Linked DNA regions of Homo sapiens. The protein of the gene in region 1 purifies or fractionates together with the protein of each later gene. This does not show direct contact. Each region holds a gene or a part of one and is shown on either strand. Other genes may lie near its edges. The genes, in order: DHX37, NAT10 and UTP14A.

Evidence for each region.
Region 2: the proteins of DHX37 (region 1) and NAT10 fractionate together in Homo sapiens (co-fractionation; 2 studies listed by BioGRID). This does not show direct contact.
Region 3: the proteins of DHX37 (region 1) and UTP14A purify together in Homo sapiens (affinity purification with mass spectrometry; 2 studies listed by BioGRID and IntAct, with this or other methods). This does not show direct contact.

Annotation. Positions count from the first base shown.
Region 1 is NC_000012.12:124,950,269-124,958,462, forward strand, and holds part of DHX37 (probable ATP-dependent RNA helicase DHX37), read right to left. Parts: intron 6,868-8,194; coding exon 6,761-6,867; intron 6,612-6,760; coding exon 6,423-6,611; intron 3,944-6,422; coding exon 3,819-3,943; intron 3,729-3,818; coding exon 3,612-3,728; intron 2,703-3,611; coding exon of another isoform or gene 2,683-2,702; exon of another isoform or gene 2,546-2,682; intron 2,303-2,545; coding exon 2,130-2,302; intron 537-2,129; coding exon 422-536; coding exon of another isoform or gene 385-421; intron 283-384; coding exon 145-282; intron 1-144. UniProt on the Homo sapiens protein: ATP-binding RNA helicase that plays a role in maturation of the small ribosomal subunit in ribosome biogenesis. Required for the release of the U3 snoRNP from pre-ribosomal particles.
Region 2 is NC_000011.10:34,107,919-34,116,112, reverse strand, and holds part of NAT10 (RNA cytidine acetyltransferase), read right to left. Parts: intron 7,903-8,194; 5' UTR 7,888-7,902; coding exon 7,780-7,887; intron 7,372-7,779; coding exon 7,280-7,371; intron 4,062-7,279; coding exon 3,890-4,061; intron 2,398-3,889; coding exon 2,275-2,397; intron 291-2,274; coding exon 229-290; intron 1-228. UniProt on the Homo sapiens protein: RNA cytidine acetyltransferase that catalyzes the formation of N(4)-acetylcytidine (ac4C) modification on mRNAs, 18S rRNA and tRNAs.
Region 3 is NC_000023.11:129,908,789-129,916,982, forward strand, and holds part of UTP14A (U3 small nucleolar RNA-associated protein 14 homolog A), read left to right. Parts: intron 1-2,219; coding exon 2,220-2,362; intron 2,363-2,977; coding exon 2,978-3,133; intron 3,134-3,790; exon of another isoform or gene 3,791-3,903; coding exon of another isoform or gene 3,904-3,922; intron 3,923-4,521; coding exon of another isoform or gene 4,522-4,607; intron 4,608-8,194. UniProt on the Homo sapiens protein: May be required for ribosome biogenesis.

The DNA.
Region 1 (8,194 bases):
GGGACCCTCCTGCAGCTGCCCTCCCGAGTCCCATCCCTGCCCCACCCGAGACACACACGTCCGGGGGCAGGGGACAGGACCGTGTGTCCGAGAAGCCCACGGCTGCAGGAGGCTCAGGTTGCCCAGGACACTGCCCCAACTCACAGAACACGCTGGCCCGGTGACACAGCACCCGCCCCCGCTCGGGGCAGTATGTAGGGGCTGGTTCCTCCAGGGGCTTGTCAAACTGGCAGTAAGAGGGCAGCAGGGCCGGGATCCACTGGACCTCCACGCTAGAGACGCCTGGGGGCCGGGGGAGGAAGCTGGGGTTACAGCGGCACCCTCCGTGGGAGGGGCTGCCATGCCTCTGCCCCAGGGTCCCAGCCACACCCCCATTAGCGTCACCATCGGGGGACAAGGGGCTGTCCGCAGGCCTCGGCACCTTTCATGTACATCTTAGTGGTCTCCACGATTTCCTGGTAGACCACAAACTCGGGGAGCTCTTTGAAAAGGACGGAGCTGGGGTGGATGAAGACAGGGTCGTCGAGGAGAGGGGTCTGCAGAGAATGGAGAGTGATGTGGTCAGGGAAGAACCCATGCCCAGGGGCTCCGCATACTTTCAACCCAGGAGAAGAATCTGATTATCCACTCCAGCCGCAAAAGTGGGAGAGTGCTCCATCTGCCGGGAAATGCGGCCCATCCACACGCTGGAGTCTGATCCAGCCGTGAAAAGGAAGGAAGTGCCGGGTGCAATGGCTCACGCCTGTAATCCCAACACTCTGGGAGGCCGAGGAGGGTGGATCATCTGAGGTCAAGAGTTCGAGACCAGCCTGGCTGGTTTCACCATGTTGGTGAAACCCCATTTCTACTAAAAATACAAAAAATTAACTGGGCATGGTGGCACACACCTGTAATCCCAGCTACTTGGGAGGCTGAGGCAGGAGAATTGCTTGAACCCGGGAGGTGGAGGTTGCAGTGAGCTGAGATCACGCCATTGCACTCCGGCTTGGGCAATAAGAGCAAAACTCCTTCTCAAAAAAAAAAAAAAAAGGAAGCACCGACACCTGCCATGGCGTGGATGGGGCTTGAAAGCATCACACTAAGTGCAAGAGGCCAGACATGAAAAGCCATGTATGTTAAGATTCCACTCATGCCAAATGTCCAGAACAGGCAGATCCACAGATGGAAAGCAGGATCATGAAAACGGGGGTGACGGGGAACTGGGGACTCACAGCTTACATATGTGGGGTTTCTTTGTTGGGTAATAAAAATGTTCTAAAGTTAACTATGATAATGGTTGCAAAACTCTGTGAAAATACTAAAACCCACTGAATTGAACACTTTAAATGGGTTTAAATGCAGGCCAGATGCAGTGGGTCACACTTGTCATCCTAACACTTTGGGAGGCCAAGGTGGAAGGATTCCTAGAGGCCAGGAGTTCAAGACTAGCCTGGGTAACACTGCTTGTAAGCCCAGCGTTTTGGGAGGCCGAGGTGGGCAGATCACTTGAGGCCAGGAGTTCAAGACCAGCCTGGCCAAAATGGTGAAACCCCTTCTCTACTAAAAATACAAAAATTAGCTGGGCATGGTGGCACACACCTGTAATCCTAGCTATTTGGGAGGCTGAGGCAGGAAAATTGCTGGAACCCAGGAGGTGGAGGTTGCAGTGAGCTGAGTTCGCACCACTATACTCTAATCTGGGCAACAGAGTGAGGCTCTGTCTCAAAAAAGAAAACAACAACAACAAAATTAGTCGGAGGTGGTGGTGTGCCCCCTGCAGTCCCAACTACTCAGGAGGCTGTGGCGAGAAGGTTATTTGTGCCTGGGAATTCGAGGCTGCAGTGAGCTATGATTGTGCCACTGCACTCTATCCTGGGCAACAGAGCGAGACCTTGTTTCTAGAAAACACAAAAAACCCCAAAAGAGTTTAAATGCTGTGTGAATTTTATCTCCACTAAACTGTTATTAAAAAAAAAAAGTTGGGAGAAACTAACCAAGGAAGATGTGATTCTACTGCAAGCCCCACTTGTTCCTCAGTGGGGACCCACAGCTGAGAGGGAACAAGCCTCCCCAGACCCTGAGGGCCCAGCCCGCCTGCCCCTCACCAGGTGCCCCAAGCTACCCGGGCAGGGAGGCGGTGGGGGCCGCACCTTGTAGGCGTTCCTCCACTTGTCCTCCAGCATCTCCTCGCTCTGGACCCTGCGGGCCAAGTGGTCCCCCAGGCCTGCCGTCACGATCTGTCGCAGGTAGGTCACCTGGCTCTCGGTGGGCGGCTGCATCTTGGGATCCACGAAGAGCTCAGCCTCGGGGCACACGGCATTGACTGAGGGGAGAACCAAGAGTGAGGTCGGTGGTGGCAAGGCCCGGAGCCAGCTCTGCCCTGACCTCCTAGAAAGTCCCAACCATGCTCAGTGCTCTAGCCTCAGCCACCTGCTTGTCTCAACCCCTCCCCAGAGGCCACCAGCAGGACCCAAAGCCCCCAGCAGGCAGGATTGCAGCCGCCCCCCCATTCCCTCCTTCTCCCTTGGGACAAAGCCCCACATCCTGCCTGGGCAGCAGAGCATTCTTCGAGGAGACAGCCCTCCCCTAACACCCAGGTGGCCTCAGACTCAGTTCTGGTCCATGATGTGAAGAAGGAAGTTGCGGCTGGAATTCCTGGGAACGTTCAATACGGGAACAGGACAGCCGGCGGGTGCCCTGGCCTCATCCTTCCCTTCTCTTGCCTGGAAGGCAGAGGTGACTAAGCCTCCAACTACCTCCTCAGCCCAAGAGGTGACCTTAGGATGGAAGGCACAGCGAATGGCAGGAGGATGGCAGCAGAGAAACGCCCTGGGCTGCTGACTCAAGTGACTTCTCTTCCTTGCAACAATAAAGGTCTAATGTCACCAAGCCACTGTAACCAGCACTGTCTGGAGGCTGACTGCAATTCTAAGCTGCTGCACCTGGAATGGGGCTGCTCTGGAAAGCCACAGCCAGAAGGACACAGAGCATGGTGACAGGGCCACCACCATGCACCTGGCGCTGGGAGAAGGATCGGCCGGAAGAGAGCCATCAATTCTGGCATCAAACCTTGGGATCTGCTTAAATGGAAGGCAAATTCTCCACTAGCCTTGGGTGCAAGAACGTGGCCTGCCCAGAAGAGACCCAGTGTCCACGCTGCCCTCTCTACGCATCGTCCTCTTGCCATATGTTGGAGGACATTTCCTTCCTCTCAAGCTTCCCTGGGTGTTGGTGGCAGGAAGTATTTGTGCTGCTGAGCTGAGGTAGAGTCCAGGGCAAGGCCTCATCCTTCTGCATGAGAAGGGTCTGGGGGACATGTGGGAGGGAAGAGGGGTCCAGGCCACAGCGGTGATGGAAAATGGCAGGGGGTATCGCCAGGGAAAAGGTGAAACCGAGCGACGACCTGGTGGGGGAGGGTGCAGGCTGGCAGCTCGAATCTGTTAGTGCCCTGCTCATGTGCACATTCCCTTGTTCCTGGAAAAGCTCCCCAAGTATTGATTTAGGGTTATAAATACATTTTGGTGCGTAGCAAGTTTGCAAACGTGGACTCTATGGATCACTTTTTTAAACATTTCAAGTGCCCAGGTCAGGTTGCCCGCCGGGTGCAGCGGCGTGCCGGCACGGGGCCGTACCTGCGGTGGTCAGCTGGCCCCGCAGGCGCCGGATCTCCATCATGGCTTTGTACCGCAGCCCGTTGGCTTCGCAAAACTGGGGTGTGCAGCTGGCATACTCACAGGCTCCCACGGCGCCTGGGGAACGAAGAGGGGGCATGCTCTCTCTCTGACCCATCCCAGACCTGGGTGACCCTCCCGCCACCCTCCAACGGGCAGGGCACAAACCCAGCAGCACCATGAGGTCGCCGAGCTTCAGAGAAGCCCCCTGCCCTGCCCAGGTCCTCTTCATCTGGGCCACCCGGGCCCGCTTGCTCTTCAGCCTGGTGAGCTCCTCGTCACTGGCCGCTGGTCTGCAAACACACATACATACTGTCTGGGCTGGGGCCTCGGCTGCGCTCAGGGCCTCAGCGGGGGGAACTCCTTTATTCATCGGGACAGGCTCAGAGGCCTTGTGGGGTCACTGATGAATGTAATTAAGGTATTAAGGTCCAGCTCAAAATTCACCATTGGCAGCCACCGCTGCACTGTTGTTCTTTTTTTTTTCTTTTTTTTGAGACAGAGTCTCGCTCTGTCGCCCAGTGCAGTGGTGTGGTGTGATCTCGGTTCACTGCAAGTTCCGCCTTCCGGGTTCACACCATTCTCCTGACTCAGCCTCCCGAGTAGCTGGGACTACAGGTGCCCACCACCAGGCCCGGCTAAGTTTTTGCATTTTTTGTTTAGTAGAGACAGAGTTTCACCGTGTTAGCCAGAATGGTCTCGATCTCCTGACTTCGTGATCCGCCCGTCTCGGCCTCCCAAAGTGCTGGGATTACAGGCATGAGCCACCGTGCCCGGCCACTGCACCATTTTTAGGTAATAAAAAACTCTGCAAACTGCTTAAATAGCTGCCAAGGGTGGACTGAATAAATGAATGATGCCAGTGGCTTCCAAACCTGAAAATAATACTAACACTTAACATATGTGTCAGGCACGGCTCAAAGCACTTTGCTTGTGTTAACTCATTTAATTCTACCAACAATCCAATTATTATCATTATCATCATCCCCATTTTCCAGATGGAGAAAATGAAGCTCAGAGTGGTACAGTCACTTGCCTAAGGTCACACAGCTCAGAATGGCAGAGAGAGATTCGAACCATACCTGAGCTCTCAGTCACCACGCTACAGAGCCTTGACACTAGCATCACGTGGGAGTCTTAGAGATGCTGGGACCAGGAGATCTGGGCAGAGGCCAAGACACCTGGTTTTCAAGACCTTACATGTAATGGTTAATTATGTGTCCACTTGACTGGGCAAAGGGATGCCCAGATAGCTAATTAAGCCTTATTTCTGGGTGTTTCTTTGAATTGGTGACTGGCATAAAGCTACTGCCCTCCCCCAATGTGGGTGTGGGCCACATCTGATCCACTGAGGGCCCAAGTAGGCAGAGGAGGTGTGACTTCGGGCTCTGCTGACTGCGTGAGCTGGGTCTTCCCTGCCCTCGATGCTCCTGGTTCTTGGGCCTTCAGACCCCAACTGAAACTGACACCACTTTCTGTTTCTCCAGAGAACCCTATTATTCTCCCCCAAGGGATTCTGACGAATAGCTGGGATTACAGGTGTCCATCACCATGCCCGCTTTTTGATTTTTAGTAGAGACAGGGTTTCACCATGTTGGCCAGGCTGGTCTCAAATTCCTGACCTCTCAAGTGATCTGCCTGCCTCGGCCTCCCAAGTGCTGGGATTACAGGCGTGAGCCACCATGCCCGGCTAAAGCTGCTTTTGAAGTTCAGATGCACTGACCCTGAAAAGATACAGGACCATCTGATCTCATTTCCTCAAATTAAAACTCTGTCCGTGCAGAGCACAGGGAAACGTCTGGAACTGCACTGGCCAATACAGTGGCCACTAGCCACATGTGGCTGTTTAAATTTAAACTATTAAAAATAAGTAAGGTTTTAAGTCAGTTTGTTGCCGTAACTGCCACATTTCACAGGCTGAGGCCACGTGTGGTTAGTGGCTGCGGTATGGAATGGCCCATGCAGTGATGTGGCCTAAAGCAAAGTTCCTGGTTAGGGTGGGTGGGACCGGGGAGGGGAGGTGGTGGAGGATAAACAAAGAAAAACCATCCAGATCTCAACAGATTCCCCAGTGTCCACCTAACTGCCTTCCCAACTAGTGTCTGCTCTGTCATCTGACAAGATGGTCCAAACACAGGCAGATTGACCCTAAGGGAAGCAGCAGGCTTTGCACAAGATGCAGAGGCTCACAGAGTCGATGAAGTGACATTGTGGGCCTGCCTGTACCATTCACAGTGGACGAGAGATGGTGGCAGCAGAAGCCTGGCTCACAGCTGAGGGAGAGATGGTCAAAACTGATGGCGTGAAAGGCGGTTTCAGGAGGAATGATGTGAACGCTGAAGACTTACCAAGCCCTTGAGAAACTCAAGTTGCTTCCAGAAATCTCTGCAGAAATGACCCCTTTTATCATTAAGCTGCCAAAGGCAGATCTACGCAATAGGATGCCAGGAAATTATTAAATAATTGTTCATTCTAAGAATTAGCATGTAGTCATAATCTATAAGTAAATTTTGTTAAATACACAATGCACTAAACATACTTTCAACATACTTTCACAGTCTTAGTGTCACTTTTCTTTTTCTTTTTTTAGAGAAGGGTCTCACTCTGTTGCCCAGGCTAGAGTGCAGTTGCACAATCTCAGCTCACTGCAACCTCTACCTCCTGGGTTCAAATGATTCTTCTACCTCAGCCTCCTGAGTAGCTGGGACTCTCAGCCCAGAGCCCCCGTCGGAACTGAGCTTGGCCCTGAGTGCCCAGCCGCCAACCTCGCACCTGTCCAGCTCCTCAAACAGCTCCCGCACCGTCATGCTGGCCACGATGGTGATGGCATAGGGCAGGCAGCCGTGTTGTCGGCTCAGTGCCAGCATCTTAGCGTAGCGGGGTGCCACGGGGAATGTGGCCATTGTCCGGCCCAGCGCAGTGATGGGGCAGCTCAGCCGGTTCTCCTGCAGTTGCTTCACCCTGGAGATGGAGGTGGTGGTGGCAGTGCTCTGAGAGGAGCTCTGGAGCCACAGCTGGGAGGCCCCACGCTTGAGGCAGCTCAGGCCCAGCAAAAGGGAGAGAGGGCCCTGAACGGGGCAGGAACTGGGCTCTGCATCTCTTGGCCTTACCTTTCTGCTTTCTGGGGCGGTTGCAGGGCACCCAGTGCGATCAACAGCTCCTCGGCGGCAAGAAGGGCTTCCACGGAGGGGGGCGTCGGGAAGGGGAAGTTGATGACCTGGGACACAAGGAGACGTGGCAGGGACAGGGTGAATGCCAAGAACAAGTCCGGTGCTCCTGCTCCGTCTGTGGCAGGCACTCCCTCCAACCCCTCTCTCCGGGCTCAGCTCATGCCAGTGGGGACACAGGGGCCTGGGGCACTCTCAAAGGCCAGGTCCCAATGGAACCCCAAGGCCTCCTTTACTCACTCACCTCATCCATTCACTCAAAAACACGTCCCAAGCACTGGCTAGGCACTGAGGGCTGTGCTTTGCCCCCGCTGGGTGCTTTTTTCGGTTTTTAACAGACTATTATACTCATGAGGACTGAGCGTCATTTGACCAGGAGGGGCCACAGGTAGTCAGTGAGGCATAATACGAATAAATTGGCCTGGTGCGGTGGCTCACGCCTGTAATCCCAGCACTTTGGGAGGCTGAGGCGGGTAGATCACCTGAGGTCAGGAGTTCGAGACCAGCCTGACCAATATGGTGAAACCCCCATCTCTACTAAAAATACAAAAATTAGCCGGGTGTGGTGGCGCTCGCCTGTAGTCCCAGCTACTTGGGAGGCTGAGACAGGAGAATCATTTGAACCTGGGAGGTGGGGGTTTCAGTGAGCCGAGATCACACCACTGTACTCCAGCCTGGGTGACAGAGTGAGACCCCATCTCAAAATAGTAATAATAACGTGAATAAATTTATCACAATAGCCAAAAGATGGAAGCAACCTGTGCGTCTCTGAATGGAGGAGTGCATGAACAAAACGTGGGCCACCCATAAAATGGACAATGATTCAGCCGCGAATAGGAGTGAAGCAGCGACACGCGCTACACCACGGATGGAGCTTGAGAACATCATACTCAGGGAAAGACGCCGGGCACAAAGGCCACGCATTGTAGGATTCCATCTGCATGAAATGTCCCAAACTGGCAAATCCATGGAGAGGAGTGGGCACAGGGGCCAGGGAGCTGGGAGGTGGTGACAGATAAAGGGTACATGCTTCCTTTCTGGGGTGATGAAAATGGCCACGGTGGTGATGTCCGCACAACTTTGTGAACACACTGGAAACTACTGACCCACACACTTTCAATGGGTGACTGTGTGGTGCCTGAACTCTATCTCAATAAAGCTAGAGGCGGGGTGGTGAGCCTGCAGCAGGCACGCAGGTAAGGAGGCAATGCTAGGAACCCAGGTCTGGGGGAAGGCAGGAGGGGGCCTGCTCTGGAGCTGACTCAAGAGCCAGGGGAAGCCACTGCGGAGTTTCTACAGAGTGGACTTGATGTCACTTGTGGGAGGCACTCCCGACAGTGCTCCCAGCCACACTGAGCTCCCAGCCCAGCCCTGACA
Region 2 (8,194 bases), on another chromosome or scaffold:
TGTCAAGGCCAGCAGCAAGACAAAATTGAGGTTTCCTGGCTCCAACTTTCCACCACGTTTCACTGCTTCCAGTTAGTCTCACAACTGCTGCTGCTGTCAAGAATCTCATCATTTTTGGAATATTGTACTACTTTCCCCAATATAAAAGCAAAGTTTTCAGTTGAGTCCAAGATAAAAATGTCCCTCCCAATGTGGCTGCCCCACAATTGGGGGGAACTATAGAATTACCTTTCATTAAATCTTCCCACCACATCCTGATGGGCCTCAGTTCTGTACCTGGAATGCACATCCTAACAAAGAAAGACAACATCCATTAACAAAGGCATGCAAACAGTGCTGAGGACCAGGGTCCAAATACAAAGCTCTATCCAAGGAGACATGGGCAATCTTGCTGGAAACAAAATCACTCCCACACACACTGCTGTGCCAAATGGTATTTGCTGAAACTGGGATCAGACACTGAATGCAACGTTGCTTATTAAAATCTTTCACTTTTCCACATTTTTCCTAGCATCCTAAGTTATATTCATTTATTTCATAAAATTGGCATGCTGTGTGCCAGATATGCTGTGCATACACTAATGAACAAAGCATGACCTCTGTTCTCATGGCACTTGGAGTATAATGGATGGAGGAAGAAAAATTAGTAGATAAATACAAATTTTGACAAATGCTACATATGAAATATAGACTGCACGGATAGCAAGTGGGGGTCACTTATGTAGGGTAGTGAGGGAGGGCCTCTCTGAGATAAGCTGAGGCCTGAAGGGTAAGTAGGTAGCTATGTCAGAGGGAGAGGAAGAACAAACTGATGTGAGCACAAAGTCATTCATTCACTCTCAACTATCTAAGGAATGCTTACTAAATGCCAGGAACTCTTCTAAGATCTGGAAATGCAACAGCAAAGAAAACTAACTCTCTGTTCCCATCAAATTTATTTACTTATTTATTTATTTTGAGACGGAGTCTTGCTCTGTTGCCCAGGCTGGAGTGCAGTGGCGTGACCTCAGCTCACCGCAACCTCCGCCTCCTGAGTTCAAGCAATTCTCCTGCCTCAGCCTCCCTAGTAGCTGGAATTACAGGTGTGCACCACCACACCTGGTTAATTTTTTTTGTATTTTTGGTAGAGACGAGGTTTCACCATGTTGGCCAGGCTGGTCTCAAACTCCTGACCTCAGGTGATCCGCCCACCTCAGGCTCCCAAAGTGCTAGGATTACAGGCGTGAGCCACTGTGATCGGCCCTCCAGTGAAATTTAGAGACTAGTACAGGAGGACAGACAAATAATAATAATAACTTTAGGTCATTGTCAAGTGCTTTGAAGAAAAATAAAGCCGGTTAAGGAGTGACAGGCGGAGCTGCCTACTGTAAACAGGGTGTGAGGAAAGACCACATGGATGAGGTGATATCTGAGCAGGGGCTTGAATGCAATGAGGAAGCGAGCCAGGCAGAGGTCCAGAGGAAGCACATTCCAGTGGGAACAGCAAGTGCCGAGGCCCTCGCAGGAGTGTGTGCTGGGCATGTCTGAGGACATTTGAGGAGGCCAAAAGGGCTGTAGTGCAAGTGATGAAGGGAGAAGTAATGACAGGAAACAGCCCCTAAGATTTGAGGAAAGTCCATTTCATCAGATAAATGCAGCTCAGGAAACCCTAAGTCCAATCCGACCACCATTACTGAGCTGCTGGACATGGGCATGACTTAAAACTTGCCTCTGAACACTGACTTGGCAACGCTGATAAAGTGAGGAGACCAGCTCTGCATCAGGTGAGACATATCCCTAATTCCTCACCATGTCCTCAGTCAGTGTCTTTTGCTTTGGGAGAACACAATCTCTGCTGGAGTTGAAATTCTTGCCAAACTGGAGTACAACTGGCAAATGTTCCTTCGTCATCCATTAGGATAAGGGCCAGTGAGCAGTCTGCACATGGTCCTTTTTTTGCAATACACAAATTTAGGCACTGGCATTGCTCCTTGTACAATATCATTCCAGAAAATTTAACTACATAAAAGCTGTATCATATCTGAATCTCACTGGTGTAGAATTTGCAAGTGCCTGAAAACAAAGGTGAAATTCAGAGATTCCTAGGCATACTCATGGACCCTGAGATTTAACTGTAGTGACTTTTTCATTAGTTAAAATCAAAGAGCTCTTAGCCCAGAGGCTGTGCTGACTACTCACTGGAGCTGCCCAACAGGAATTCTTTAAAGAAAGCAGAACACAGCAAAAACAGATTTACTTGAACCCTCACAATTAAGTTAAAAAACAGATGCTTACCATAGTCACTGTGTACAATTGCTTGAGTGAGTTCATGGTCCGTAGGAGGATGACCACTAGCCCACCACCTTCCACTGTTTCTACAGTCCTGGCCAGCAAGTTTGGAGTTAAGGCTTCAAAATCCTGGAAGAAGGGGGCGTTAGAAAGGGCTGGTCATGCAAATAGCAACCCAAAGGACTTTTTTTTTTTTTTTTTTTTTTTTGAGATGGAGTCTTGCTCTGTCGCCCAGGCTGGAGTGCAGTGGCGCAATCTTGGCTCACCACCCACCTGAGCCTCCCAAAGTGCTGGGATTACAGGCATGAGCCACCGCGCCTGGCCCAACCCAAGGGACTCTTAACCAAAAGCCAGGTGATAAGGCAAAAAGAAGACTTCAGAGCACAAAGCCAAGACCATACCTGTTCCCACCTTGACTTCCCAGGATACACACACAGGGGTACCACAGAAGAGGGCCAAACCCTCGAATATACGAATACCTGGTTTTATATGCCAAAAACGGGTCTCTTATTAGAGACGTTGTTAGTTTTATATGTCAAAAATGTCTCTGATAAAATCCTATTTGGAAACAAATTTTCCAACCTTCACTGATTCATACTTGAATTTCAGAAACATCTTACATTTTCTGACATTTATAGCTCAAACCTGTTTGACAAAACTATACTACATGGGGGAGCTACTGCTCACAGGAGTCATTATTCAGGCAATTGATCATGGCAGCAAGTAGAAGACCACTCCCTACCAATCAGTGATAACCCAGGGCATTTCCCTGAGTAAAGGTGAAAATGAGGCATAATGCCCTCTTTCTTGGCCTCCAAGGTGAGATGCAAGCCAGCAGTATAGGAGACAACCCATATTTTGCAAGGTATGTAACTTGACATAATAATGGGCACAGTTGTAAGTGTATATGATAAACACACAAAAATGTGAGGATTTGTGCTTAATTTTGTCTTGTCTTTTTTGGGAGAATGGGGAAGGGAGGTGGCACAGGAATCAAAGAAACAAAGAATAAAACAAAGACCACCAGTGCTTACACACACATGCACACACACACACACAAAGTGAAACTTAGTCTATTAACTTGCCAGGCAAGAGAATACACACCAGTGCAGAAATTCACCAAGTAGTCTCTGAGAGGTAAAGTGAGGGGTTTTTAAGGGCTAGAAAAGGGGAGAGGGGCCTTCATGGTGGGTATGCCACTCAGGCACTCTGGACAGGACATTTAAGTGCATTGGTCTATATCCGGTTGGAAAACAAGTCCCATTGCTCACTGGACAAAAAAAGTCTTTGGTGAATGCCAATAAGGACCTAGGGTCCTAGAGGCACTCAAAGTCTCTGGCATTTGCTTTATCAGCTTTAGCTAGTTAGAACCCGTTATAATAACTCATCACTTCAGTTCTGGTGTCTCTAGACAAGTGCTGATTTAAAATTCTCTTTTTATATGGGGTAGGTGACCGAGTGTACTTTGGAAAGTGGCCAGGACTTCCACTAATAATGCTTGGGCATAGGGAACATGGGACTCTCCTCTCCTTACTGTACATCTGTTCCCAGTGGAAAGCCAGGCAGCCCAAGCAACCCTCAAGACTCTGACTTCAATCACAGGTTAGAGGAAGCCACCCACCTGCAGCACACACATGCCGAAGGTATTGCCCAGGATCTTGTGGGTCTCGTTGTAGTAGCAGTAGCGAATGTTTGTGGCTGCTATGAAGAGTTCAAAGGGGTCGTCCTGCTTTATGTTCAGTGTTCCATTCTTTATTTTCTTCTGCAGCTGTCGCATTCTTTTCTTCCGGTGACTGCAATCACACACCCCCAATCCCATGAGAGCCAGTTAACCAGAGCAGCTAAAGAGCTGGAACCAGGGGAAAGGCTCAGTGATCACCCACTTAGACTTTCAGAGCTAGTAGGGAACTTGAAAGTGTGAGGCCCACTTCAGGTGGAGGGCAGTGGAGAGGCATGAGAGGCATTAGAGTGCTTAAGGGCTTGGAGTAAGTGATAAGTCTATGTGTGAACTCTGCTATTTTGCCCTGTGACCTTGAGCAAATACTTTGCTTTAAAAGATGGGTAATAGGGTAGCTAACCCTCACATTTGGCCAAAGCCAGAGCTTGAAACCAAACCTGAGTGGCCTCATTATCTCAGTCATAAGCCAATGCTTCAACTACACTGTGCTGTTCCCCAGAGATCCTAGGAAAGACAAGGTGATGGCACGTTACTTTATTCATCCTTCCTAGAGGACTTCCTCCCCGAGAATGTGGGATTATGTCTTCAAGGGCAGGTCTTACATAAGACAATAATGATACAGGACACAGGGATCAGAATGGAATCTGGACATCTCTAAGGAATTCCTGAATTTTTTTGGTCTTAAAAACCCTGCATATCCAGTTGCTACTTACCTTTCCTTTACCAAAAGAGAGAATTAGAATGTTCTAGAATGGAGGATTACAGCTGATCAAAATTTTACCATAGTTCTCTAACTTAATAGCTAGAACAAAGGCCTTTCCTCCTGTGGGCCTCCACTTCCTCATCTATGAACCAAGGCAGTGGGTGAGTTTGTCTCCACTGTCCCTTCTGGCTCAGGCCTTAAGCCCGTGACTTACAAACAGGCATTAGCTTGAACACAATGCTCTGCCAGACTAAGACAGGGGTGGGGCAGAAGAGCTATAAGAGGTACAAAAGTAGATTTTTAGAAGTGAAGCCAGGTGGTTTAAATTCAAAAGGCAAATCTGCCCAGAAGACTTTGAACTGCCTAATTCCACACCCATCTCATATTTGCCAAATGAAAAATAGTGAAAACCAGAAGCCCTAAAAACTTAAAATTCTGGGATAGACAACAGGCCTTATTCTCAATCTGTATTAAAAATGCCTACCTCTCTAAATATGAGAGTATATACAACAGAATACCAATTATGGTTCAAAACTACATCCCTGTAAGATACACCTAGATGCTGACAATGCCTAGACAGTGAGATGTTTTTTATTTTCATCTTTGGGTTTTCTGCACTTTTCACATTTCATCAGTAAGGCTCTTATGATTGTCTGGTTTCCTTTAGGCAGAATCCCTTCACTTTAAGACCACAGGACAGGGGCAAGTTTAGCCTCTGGTACTAATTTAAATTAAAATAATTTTAGAGCCTGTTAACAACACATCCAACTCAATGTATACTGAGTACCTATGATAAACATGCTAAATCAGTTAAAAGTATGAAAATACAAAGATAAATAGAAGAGGGCTCCTAACTAAATAAGCTTATCACCTGAAAGTAAAAAAAAAAAAAAAAAAAAAAAAAGGGAAAGAAAAAAAAATGAACGTAAGTCACAGTATGTAAGTGACTTTACCCTAAAGCAAAAGCATCCATTGGCAAACATTATAGGAGAAGGACAAGTGCAGAGGAAGGTAGAGGAACCACCAGGTATGACTGGGGGGCTCAGGAAAAGTTTCACGGAGGAGGCAGGCCCTGAGAAACAGGATTTCAATAGGTGATACCGGGGAGGTGGAAGTGGCATTCCAAGCAGAGGAGACAGCATGAGCAAAGAAAAGGAGGGAGGTTAGTCACAGCATAAAGCAACCAGAGCTGGAGACAGGCTTTCAGAGTCAGATCGGAGATGAGCACATTTGGAAATTAGAAGAGGCTCAAGGACAGAATCGCACAAGCCAGCTAGGTTTAGAGTAAGGAGACGAGATCCAGAGAAAGAGAAGAGCTCCGGAAGGTGGTCTGAGTAAAGACACTGAAGCCAAAAAAGGAGACTATTTCTTAGGTGATGCCATGGTGGTTATCTGCCAAGGAACAGCACTACCCACCCCATCCAAACTTCTCCAAACACAAAGTTGTAGGTAGAACTTCCAACTTTGTATTATGCTATGACCAACCCCACCCTCCTCTGGCCAGGTGTGGGCATTTTTCCACCAGAATTTTGGGAAAAAGTCTGATTTCCACATGGCTGGGCCTGAAACAAGGAAAACGCAAGTGTTGTTTCTGCTAGGGGGACAACAGAAAACAGAAAGCTGGTCTGCAGTGAGAAAGTTGGTCTGCATAGAGCAGATACACTGAGATGACAAACTGAGCTGGGAGCATTAGTACTGTGACTCTAGATCACCCGTGAGCAGAGCTGAAATCTTATCCCCTTGGATTCCAGGAAATATCCCATATACCTCAATGAAATCCCTTTGTGCCAAATTGTATTTGTGTTGAAAGTATGTTATCTATGACTAAAAGTCTTGACTACCACAGCTTCAAATAGCCAACTGTCAAATACAGCAGTGAACTGGTAGAAGAAGAGGCAGAGCTCTGAAAAGGAGGAGAAAGAGAGAGAAAAGTTGACGCATTAGGCATCAAGCTGCTGGGGATGTCTAACTGCACAATTTGATCACAATTATAGAAGCAGAAACCAGACTGCAAAAGTGGCTACTAAGTGCAAAAGATTTCTGTTTTAAGGTATATGGCAATAAAAATCGGGGGAAATGCTAACCTGAGAGAGAAATCTGGGTATGTAAGTAATCAGCTTTTGATAATAGAAAAATCTGAGCATGTTTACAGGAAGGAGAAAGTTTCCAAAGGGTATTGGGTGGCCAGCAGAGGAAAGACAATACAGGTCCTGAAAGAGGTGAGGGAGGAGACACAGGGTACATAAAGGGGTTTTCCTTGGACATGGGATGAGGCATATACCCCCTCCATGAAAGAAGGGGAGAAAAAGAGAGAGAGTGAAAAGTGGAATAAATTTGAGGTAGGAAAGACAGTTTGAAGGAACTTGCAATGAGATGGGCTTAATCAGCCTAGAAAAGCAGGAAGGAAAACCATATGCAGAAGGCAAGGCATTGGATTGGTGACTTAAAAAGCATGAAAATGATTTGAAACTTATTTTCAGGAATGAAGAAAGGATATCAGCTCCATTTGTCCTCAGAGATAGCACCTCCACTAAAGACCCTTAAAAAATATGTGAAGGAATCATTTCCTGGCATTTAACTAATGAGCAGGAATTGTAAGTTGGATAAAACACATGAAGAGCCCAGCTTACCTGCTAAACCCCAGCTCTTTCTTATAACACCACAGCACTGAAGGCCGAGCCTTCACAGTTGCTTTGGATAACATGTGATGAAGTATTACCACCTGCCAAACAAAAAAGTCACAGAATTTCAGGCACAAAAGAGACTTTAGAGACCGCCAGGCTTAAGACCTCATTTGACGGATGTGGAAACTAAACTGAGGGCCAGGGAAGGGAAGTGCCCAAGGTTCTAAGGCGAGCAATGACCAGGTTTGGACTAGAAGCCAGGTCACATACAGTTCACTTTGTGGTCAACCCACCACCCCAGGCTTCAAAAGGTATTAGCTTGTCTGCGAATCAATCTAAATACAGAGAATTCACCACTTCCAGGAAATAAAGAAAGGTTCCCACTAGGCATCTTACCAGCCAAAGAGATCTTAATGCCATTATGTCCTGAAACAGCAGAGTGCTTAAACATGCTGATTCTTTGGACAAGATAAAAAGTAATTCAGGAAGCATTTACCAGGCCATACCTGATCTTTTCCTCGATCCCCAACTACAACAAAGAGAGATCTTTGCCGCTCAGCTACTCCATTCTCAATGAGAATCCGGATTCGGTTATCCACCTTTTTCCGATGCATGGTGAAAAATTATTACTAAAAGAGAAAGAAATACAACTGGCCATGCGCACTAGATTGTCTAAGGAACATTAGCTGGCTGCCTTTTGTGGGGCCTGGGACTGTGCTAGGCATATCTATAAGTATTGTCTTACTTAACCCTCTACGAGCTCCACAGGAAGACATCAGCCTCTAGTTTTAAACTCAGGAAACCTTAGGCTTGGGAGGTGAGAAAACCTTCCCTCAGCCTGGAAAGCCTGTAATTCACCTCTATTAAATATTTTTTAAAAGCCAGAAACTTGTATATTCAAAAAAGTAGAAGAATGACTAA
Region 3 (8,194 bases), on another chromosome or scaffold:
ATTGTGTTCACCTCACCCCCCCTAGGAACTGTTTTTGATGTGGTTAATGACTCATACCATAAATACCTGGGAGAGTGGGTGAAGAAGTGTAGTCAGATGCCCTTCAGTTTCTTCCATCTCTCAAAGAAAGCCTAGAAGGCTGTGGTCAAGGTATCCTACAGAGTTTGATGAGATACTTATAGGATAGATGGACATGAATAAAGACAGCTGCCTCTTAGTAACTTAGTCATAATTCATATTTGTACAATTTCATTTTTATTTCAGTTCTCTTAACAATGCTTTGAGTTAGGAGACAGGCAAATATTCTCTTCAGCCAGAGCTCAGAGAGGTCACATTACTTATTCAAGGGCCTTTGCCTAGTACAGTATTTCTCAACCTTTGCTTTTTTATTGCTCCCCTGAGAGGAGCCTTTCAAGCCTTTTTTTTTTTTTTTTTTTTTGAGACAGAGTCTCACTCTATCGCCCAGGCTGGAGTGCAGTGGTGCGATCTTGGCTCACTGCAAACTCCGCCTCCCAGGTTCACGCCATTCTCCTTCCTCAGCCTCCCGAGTATCTGGGACTACAGGTGCCCGCCACCGCGCCTGGCTAGTTTTTTGTATTTTTAGTAGAGACGGGGTTTCACCGTGTTAGCCAGGATGGTCTGGATCTCCTGACCTCGTGATCCACCCGCCGCAGCCTCTCAAAGTGCTGGGATTACAGGCGTGAGCCACCGTGCGCGGCCTCAAGACATTTTTTTCCTCATTGTATCCCTCCCCCTGTGCCCCTTCCCCAGGAAATCAAGTCCTAAGGAATAAGAGTTTGTTGGACAGAGTTGAGCCTTGGAGGGACACAAAACATTGTAATATCTAAGATTTTTTTCATACTCTCCCAGAAAGAACCAATTTTCACCCTGGGGTGGCGGGGTGGTAAAATTGCCCCTGTTCAGAATACATGCTCTAATAAGCGGCAGCCATGGGATTTTATCCTAATACTGAGTCTAGATGCCAAATCTTTTTCACCCTGTTCACAACTTAGGCAGCTAGAATGGGTCTTGCATTTGTAGTAATCACTGGTGTAGCCTCCTAGGGCAAATAACAATGTATTCCAAGCGTACTTATTCAGTGGATATTTATTGTGTTTCTACTAGGTAGCAGTATCAGGAACTGTTGTAGATACCAAGGTTAAAGTAGCGAATAAGATGTGAGCTCATGGGGTTTACATTCTAATGAAGGGAGACAATAAGAGAGGATGATGCAGTAAAGCAACTAAGTGGCTACTTTAGATCGGTTGGTCATGAAAGGCCCCTGAAGAGGCAAAATTGAAGCCGAGATCTGAATGACAAGTCAAGTCAACCATGCAAAGATTGGGGAAAGCATTTCAGGCCAAGGAACAGCTAGCACAAAGGCTCTAAGGTAGAAACATGCACAACATGTTGAAGAATAGGAAAGAGGCCCCTGTGACAAAAGCATTCTAGAGGGTGGGGGTTGATATGAGGTTAGAGAGGCAGATGGGGATTAGATCTCATAGGACCATGTCCTTTAGGTAGATGAGATTCAAAGTATAATGGGGAGTCACTGGAGGATTTTCAGCAGGGTCATGACATGCTGTGGTTTATATTTTCGAAAGATAATTTTGGGCTGGATACAGTGGTTTACACCTGTAATCTCCAGCACTTTGGGAGGCCGAGGTGGGCGGACTGCTTCAGCCCAGCCATTTGAGGCTGGCCTGGGCAACATGGCAAAACCCCATCTCTACAAAAAAAAAATTAAAAAAATTAACCACGCGTGGTGGCACGCGCCTATAGTGCCAGCTACTTGGGAGGATTGCCTGAGCCTGGGAGGCAGAGATGGCACCACTGCTCTCCAGCCTAAGTGACAGAGTGAGACCCTGTCTCAAAACAAACAACAACAACAGCAAAAAGATCACTTTGGCTGTTTTTATTTTTGGCTGTTATGTGAAGAATGAATTGCAATGGGGCAAGAGTAGAAGCACCAGGAGAAAAGCAAATGAGTTTTGAATAAATATTTTCCCCTATCTTCTACCCCCTAACACGTTTGGGGATGAATGTAGAAGAGTGATAGTGTTGGCATGGCTAGAAATAGGCAATTGAAGTAAGAGAATTATTCTTGCTTCTCTGCACATTTGCCATCTACTGGCATTTTCTACTGAGGCTTCTCCCTACATTATATTGAGATCTTGTCTCACTTCTTGGTCTGACCAGAAAGTTTGACCTTTCCACAGGATCAGGAGAAAAGCTGGTCCTTGCAGATCTGCTTGAGCCTGTTAAAACTTCATCTTCTTTGGCCACTGTGAAAAAGCAACTGAGTAGAGTCAAATCAAAGAAGACAGTGGAGTTACCTCTGAACAAAGAAGAGATTGAACGGGTAAGCTACAGAGAAGGTGGTCTATTAAGGGAAAGAAATTGAATTGACAAGGGAAAATAGGGTAATAGAAAGAAGGGAAAGACCTGAAAAATGGGAGAAGGGGGAGTTGTGATTTCCCCACTATGGATAAGATTAAAAATAATCTAGGAGTGCCAGGCGCGGTGGCTCACGTCTGTAATCCCAGCACTTTGGGAGGCTGAGGTAGGCGGATCACCTGAGGTCAGGAGTTCGAGACCAGCCTGTCCAACATGGTGAAACCCCGTCTCTACTAAAAATACAAAATTAGCCGGGTGTGGTGTAATCCCAGCTACTTGGGAGGCTGAGGCAGGAGAATCCCTTGAACCAGGACGTGGAGGTTGCAGTGAGCTGAGATTGCACCATTGCTCTCCAGCCTGGGCAACACGAGTGAAACTCCATCTAAATAATAATAATAATCTAGGAGAAATTGCAGTCCTGAGAAGCAAGAGGACTAGCATCCTGATTCTTTCATCCTGATTCTAGCATCCTGATTCTTTCTTGGGCTAAGAAATGTTGCTTCCTAATTTCTTGTTAGTCCTTTGGGTTTGATGCTTTAATCTTGTGGCTCTTTCCGTTTACATGCCTTGCCTGCTTCAGATCCACAGAGAAGTAGCATTCAATAAAACCGCACAAGTCCTCTCCAAATGGGACCCTGTCGTCCTGAAGAACCGGCAGGCAGAGCAGCTGGTTTTTCCCCTGGAGAAAGAGGAGCCAGCCATTGCTCCCATTGAACATGTGCTCAGTGGCTGGAAGGTGAGTACAACAAAATGAAACTGAAAGGTGAGATTTTATAAGTTGGAGATTTCAGAGCCTGCAATTGATTTGATTGGACATGTTAAGCTAAACCCCAGCATAAGTCATTTTAGCTTAGTGCTCAGAAAGAAGGGGTTGCCCATCGTCATTGTCAGTCATGTGATAGCCAGTCACAATAGCTCTGTGATCACTTTTTTTTTTTTTTTCTTGAGACAGGGTCTTGCTCTGTCGCCCAGGCTGGAGTGCAGTGGCACGATCTCAGCTCACTGCAACCTCTGCCTCCTGGGTTCAAGCAATTCTCCTGCCTCAGCCTCCCAAGTAGCTGGGATTACTGGCGTGCACCAACACGCCCAGCTAATTTTTTTTTTTTTGGATTTTTAGTAGAGATGGGGTTTCACCATGTTGGCCAGGCTGATCTCAAACTCCTGACCTCAAATGATCCGCCCACCTCAGTCTCCCAAAAGTTTTGTGATTACGGGCATGAGCCAATGCGCCCGGTCTCTGTGTCACTTTTCATCTGCTTGTAGTATACAGTACTTGCTATTTCCATGTTTTTGTGTTAAACCATGTGATTGCCCGTATAGCAGGAACATAATAATGTTTTCTTTCTTTTACCCCAGTTTTTAAAAAGCATTTAAAGCCACATTCTGATCCTAGGGAAATCAGGAACTCGATAACATTAATGATGCCTTAGTGAGGATATGTGAACAACAGAAGCCAAACTTTGCTTGTACAGGAATACCGCATTAAAATATAATGTGTTGCTGGCAATGACTAGAACTTCAGCAGGTAACTTACTATGACTCTGAGCTGCAGGGCAGGGGTTGATGTTTTAGAGCTGGGTTTCCCAAACACTGACCCCTAACAAAGTTTGTGTCTGAAGCAAAAGGATAATTCTAAGTATGTTTGTTTGGTGGGTGTAATGTTGCCAGTTCTTTTTTATTATGAGGTTATTCTATTTTAATGGTGTTGAAATATCTTTTCTTCTATGAAATGATGGTGGTAGTAAATGATGGGATTGGGGGTGAAATGGTAGTTATGCTCTTGGCAAAATTAGAAGTTGGAAATCCTATGTTGGTCCCTGAAGTCCGGTTTTTAGTCCGAATAACTGCTTTAGAACAGCTAGCCTACTTTTCCAATACACCATTGGTATGGAGTCTATAATGGGCTGATTAGTCTTAAATAGATGCCCTCTTTGTGCTTCTCCTCTTTACTTTCCAAAAACCCAAGAATGGTAGTTTCTTAGGCGTTGGGAAGTTGAGCTAATTAAAGCTAATCAAAGTAAACATTGCTTGCCACAATAGCTAGAAATTGAGCGAGTAGTTGCTTATTATGGGGATAAGCTGTTTCTGATGTTTTTGCTGAAGTCACTACCATTCTCTTTCTAGGAGGCTTCCTTTTCTACATGAAAAAGAGATCAGGTTTAAAGTGTGGCTGCAGGATGAAGGGAGACTTTAGAAAAAAAAAATCAGAGGTAATACAATTTGTAGGATTCAAAAATAAAAAAGCATAGAAGATATGTAGTGAAAAGTTTGATTCCACCCGTGCCCCATCTGATCATTTTTACCCCCATACTCACCCAGAAGTAACCACTTGCATAAGTTTGCTGTTGTTGTTGTCTTAGAGTTTTATTTCTATATTCATGTTTACCTCCTTTTTAAATAAAAAGAAGGGTAGCATGCTACTACACACTGTCCTCCACCTTGCTTTTTCCAAATGACAGTGTAATCTTGGAGATAGCAGGAAAATGCCAAGTTTGTTATTAAAAACGAGATGGGGCCGGGTGTGGTGGCTCACGCCTGTAATCCCAGCACTTTGGGAGGCCGAGGCAGGTGGATCACCTGAGGTCAGGAGTTTGAGACCATCCTGGCCAACATGGCGAAACCCCATCTCTACTAAAAATACAAAAATTAGCGGGGCATGGTGGTGTGTGCCTGTAATCCCAGCTACTAGGGGGGCTGAGGCAGGAGGATCACTTGAACCTGGGAGGCGGAGGTTGCAGTGAGCCGAGATTGTGCCACTGCACTCCAGCCTGTGCAATAGAATGAGACTCTGTCTCAAAATATATATATAAATAAATAAAAAATAAAAACTAGATGGTAGTGGAGGAGGTTACACTAAGAATAGAACAACCTCTTCAAGATAGAGTGAGGCTCAGATGTCATACATTGAATATACCATGCCGTTCATTCATTCTAAGACTGACTTTTGAGAAATTATGCTAGTAGGGCACAGAGAAATAAGGAAGTGCTTAGTTCAGAGGGTGCTTTGTGGCTAGCAACTCCTAGGTCTCTCCTTACAACTTAGATTGCAAAGTACCAACAACTAGTATATGCTGTATTAGGATTTCTAGAAACTGAATATCAAGTCTCAGACCAGGCACGGTGGCTCACGCCTATAATCCAAGCACTTTGGGAGGCTGAGGCAGGTGGATCACCTGAGGTCAGGAGTTCAAGACCAGCCTGGCCAACATGGTGAAACCTCGTCTTTACTAAAAATATGTAAATTAGCCGGGCATGGTAGCACATGCCTGTAGTCTCAGCTGCTGAGGAGGCTGAGGCAGGGGAATTTCTTGAATCCAGGAGGCAGAAGGTACAGTGAGCCGAGATCACGCCACTGCACTCCAGCCTGAGGAAAAAAAAAAACCCTCTACTCTTTCCCCGCCCTCCCCCAAAAAAAAGAAAAGAAAATCGAAAGTCTGTACTATAGTTTTGGTCCAGCTCCCTAAAATTTTGTTTAGCTGCAAATAATTAAGTGGGATAATGCATGAGAAGGCATTTGTAAACTGCAAAGTGCTAGAAATGCTGTGAGGTAACTTCTTTCACCCCTCTCCTCACTATTCTCTGTCTACAGTGGTATTTCCCAAGGCATTCTCCTTGAAACCTTAGTCTCTCATTATGCCTTCACAAGAGGAGGAGAGGAGGCATTGCTAGAAAATGCTGCATGCCCCTACTGGAGATCGGAGAGTCACAACATGCTTTAGCATTTTAAAGTCTATGAAACAGGCCAGACGGATGTGGTGGCTCACGCCTGTAATCCCAGCACTTTGGAAGGCTAAGGCGGGTGGATCACCTGAGGTTAGGAGTTTGAGACCAGCCTGACCAACGTGGCAAAACATCGTCTCTACTAAAAAATATTAAAAAATTAGCTGGACGTGGTGGCTTATGCCTGTAATCCCAGCTACTCAAGAGGCTGAGGCACCAGAATCGCTTGAACCCAGGAGGCGGAGGTTGCAGTAAGCCAAGGTTGGGCCACTGTACTCCAACCTGGGCAACAGAGTGAGACTCTGTCTCAAAAATAAAAAATAAAAATAAAGGCTATGGGCCGGGCGTGGTGGCTCACGCCTGTAATCCCAGCACTTTGGGAGGCTGAGGTGGGTGGATCACAAGGTCAGGAGATCGAGACCATCCTGGCTAACACGGTGAAACCCCGTCTCTACTAAAAATATAAAAAATTAGCTGGGCACGGTGGCGGGCGCCTATAGTCCCAGCTACTTGGGAGGCTGAGGCAGGAGAATGGCATGAACCTGGGAGGCGGAGCTTGCAGTGAACCAAGATCGTGCCACTGCACTCCAGCCTGGGCGACAGAGCGAGACTCTGTCTCAAAAAAAAAAAAAAAAAAAGGCTATGAAACAATGGTGAAGACACCTGTTGGATCTAATTTAACTTAGGGTGTACAAACTGATTTTATTAAAATTTCAAAAAAATTGAATTTTAAGCTTTTAACAGGGGAGGCAAATCTTGTTATCTGATGAGAAATGTGTTTGGGGAAGAGCTGGTCTGTCTCCACTGCTGCCTCCTCTCTCTCACCTTCTTCCCCTACTGCCCTACTGAAACTTCTCTCAAAAGGCATTAGTGAGGGGCCTCCGAATTGCCAAATCCCAAGCCCTCTTAGTCTTTAGCATATTTGACACCATTGGCACATTTCATTCTAAAAATCTCTCCCCTCTAGCTTCTGTGATATACTCTGGGTATTTTCTCTCTCTGGCTTTCCTTAGTCCTTTTTATTCTTGCTCTGTAAATTCCATGACTTTTTTTTTTTTTTTTTTTTGAGACGGAGTCTTGCTCTGTCGCCCAGGCTGGAGTGCAGTGGTGCAATCTCGGCTCACTGCAAGCTCCACCTCCCGGGTTCACGCCATTCTCCTGCCTCAGCCTCCCAAGTAGCTGGGACTACAGGTGCCCGCCACCACGCCCAGCTAATTTTTTGTATTTTTTAGTAGAGACGGGGTTTCACCGTGTTAGCCAGGATGGTCTCGATCTCCTGACCTCGTGATCCGCCCACCTCGGCCTCCCAGAATGCTGGGATTACAGGAGTGAAAATTTCATAACTTTCGACTATCACTCTCAACCCCTTCTTTGAAGCTCCAGTCTCATATTCCATGTGACTAGCAGGGATCACCTGGGTCCCCCATATGCACCTTAAACTTAGTCCAGTCCAAAGTAAGCTTCGCATTTCCTTTCCCCAGACTTCCAAAACCTATACCACCCCCTTCATTCTGCAACTCAGTTAACAGCATAACTCCCTACCCCAGTCACTTAGGTTGGAAACCTCAGTCATTTGATTCCTTCTTGACCCCTTCACTGTCTCCCTCTCCGCCAGCTTATACAGGGGGCTAGACCTGCAAATTCTGTCTCTGTAATAGCCCTTATGCTCCTATTTTCTCTTCATTTTCATTTTCACTGCCCTAATCGAGGCCCTCATTGAACCTTTCCTTTGGAACTTTACATATATCCTCTACACAATCAGCAGGATTTTCTTGCTGAAACACAGTTGATCATTGCTCTCCTGCTTAAAATCCTTCAAAGGCTGTTCACTTACAGAATAAAATAAAATTACGTAGCATTTTAGCTATGCTGGACAACACGTTGTTCTATTACATACCACTCCTTTCCCTGTGTCTGTGTTTTTTGCTTATGCTCATCTGTTTGGATTTTTTTTCCTCCTGACAGAATTGTACTTAGGCCTCAAAGCCTAATTCAAAAGGTCACTTCCTTCCCTAAGCCTAACCTACCTCCCAATAATATTTAATGGTAATTTCCTCTGTGATTACCCCTATAGAAT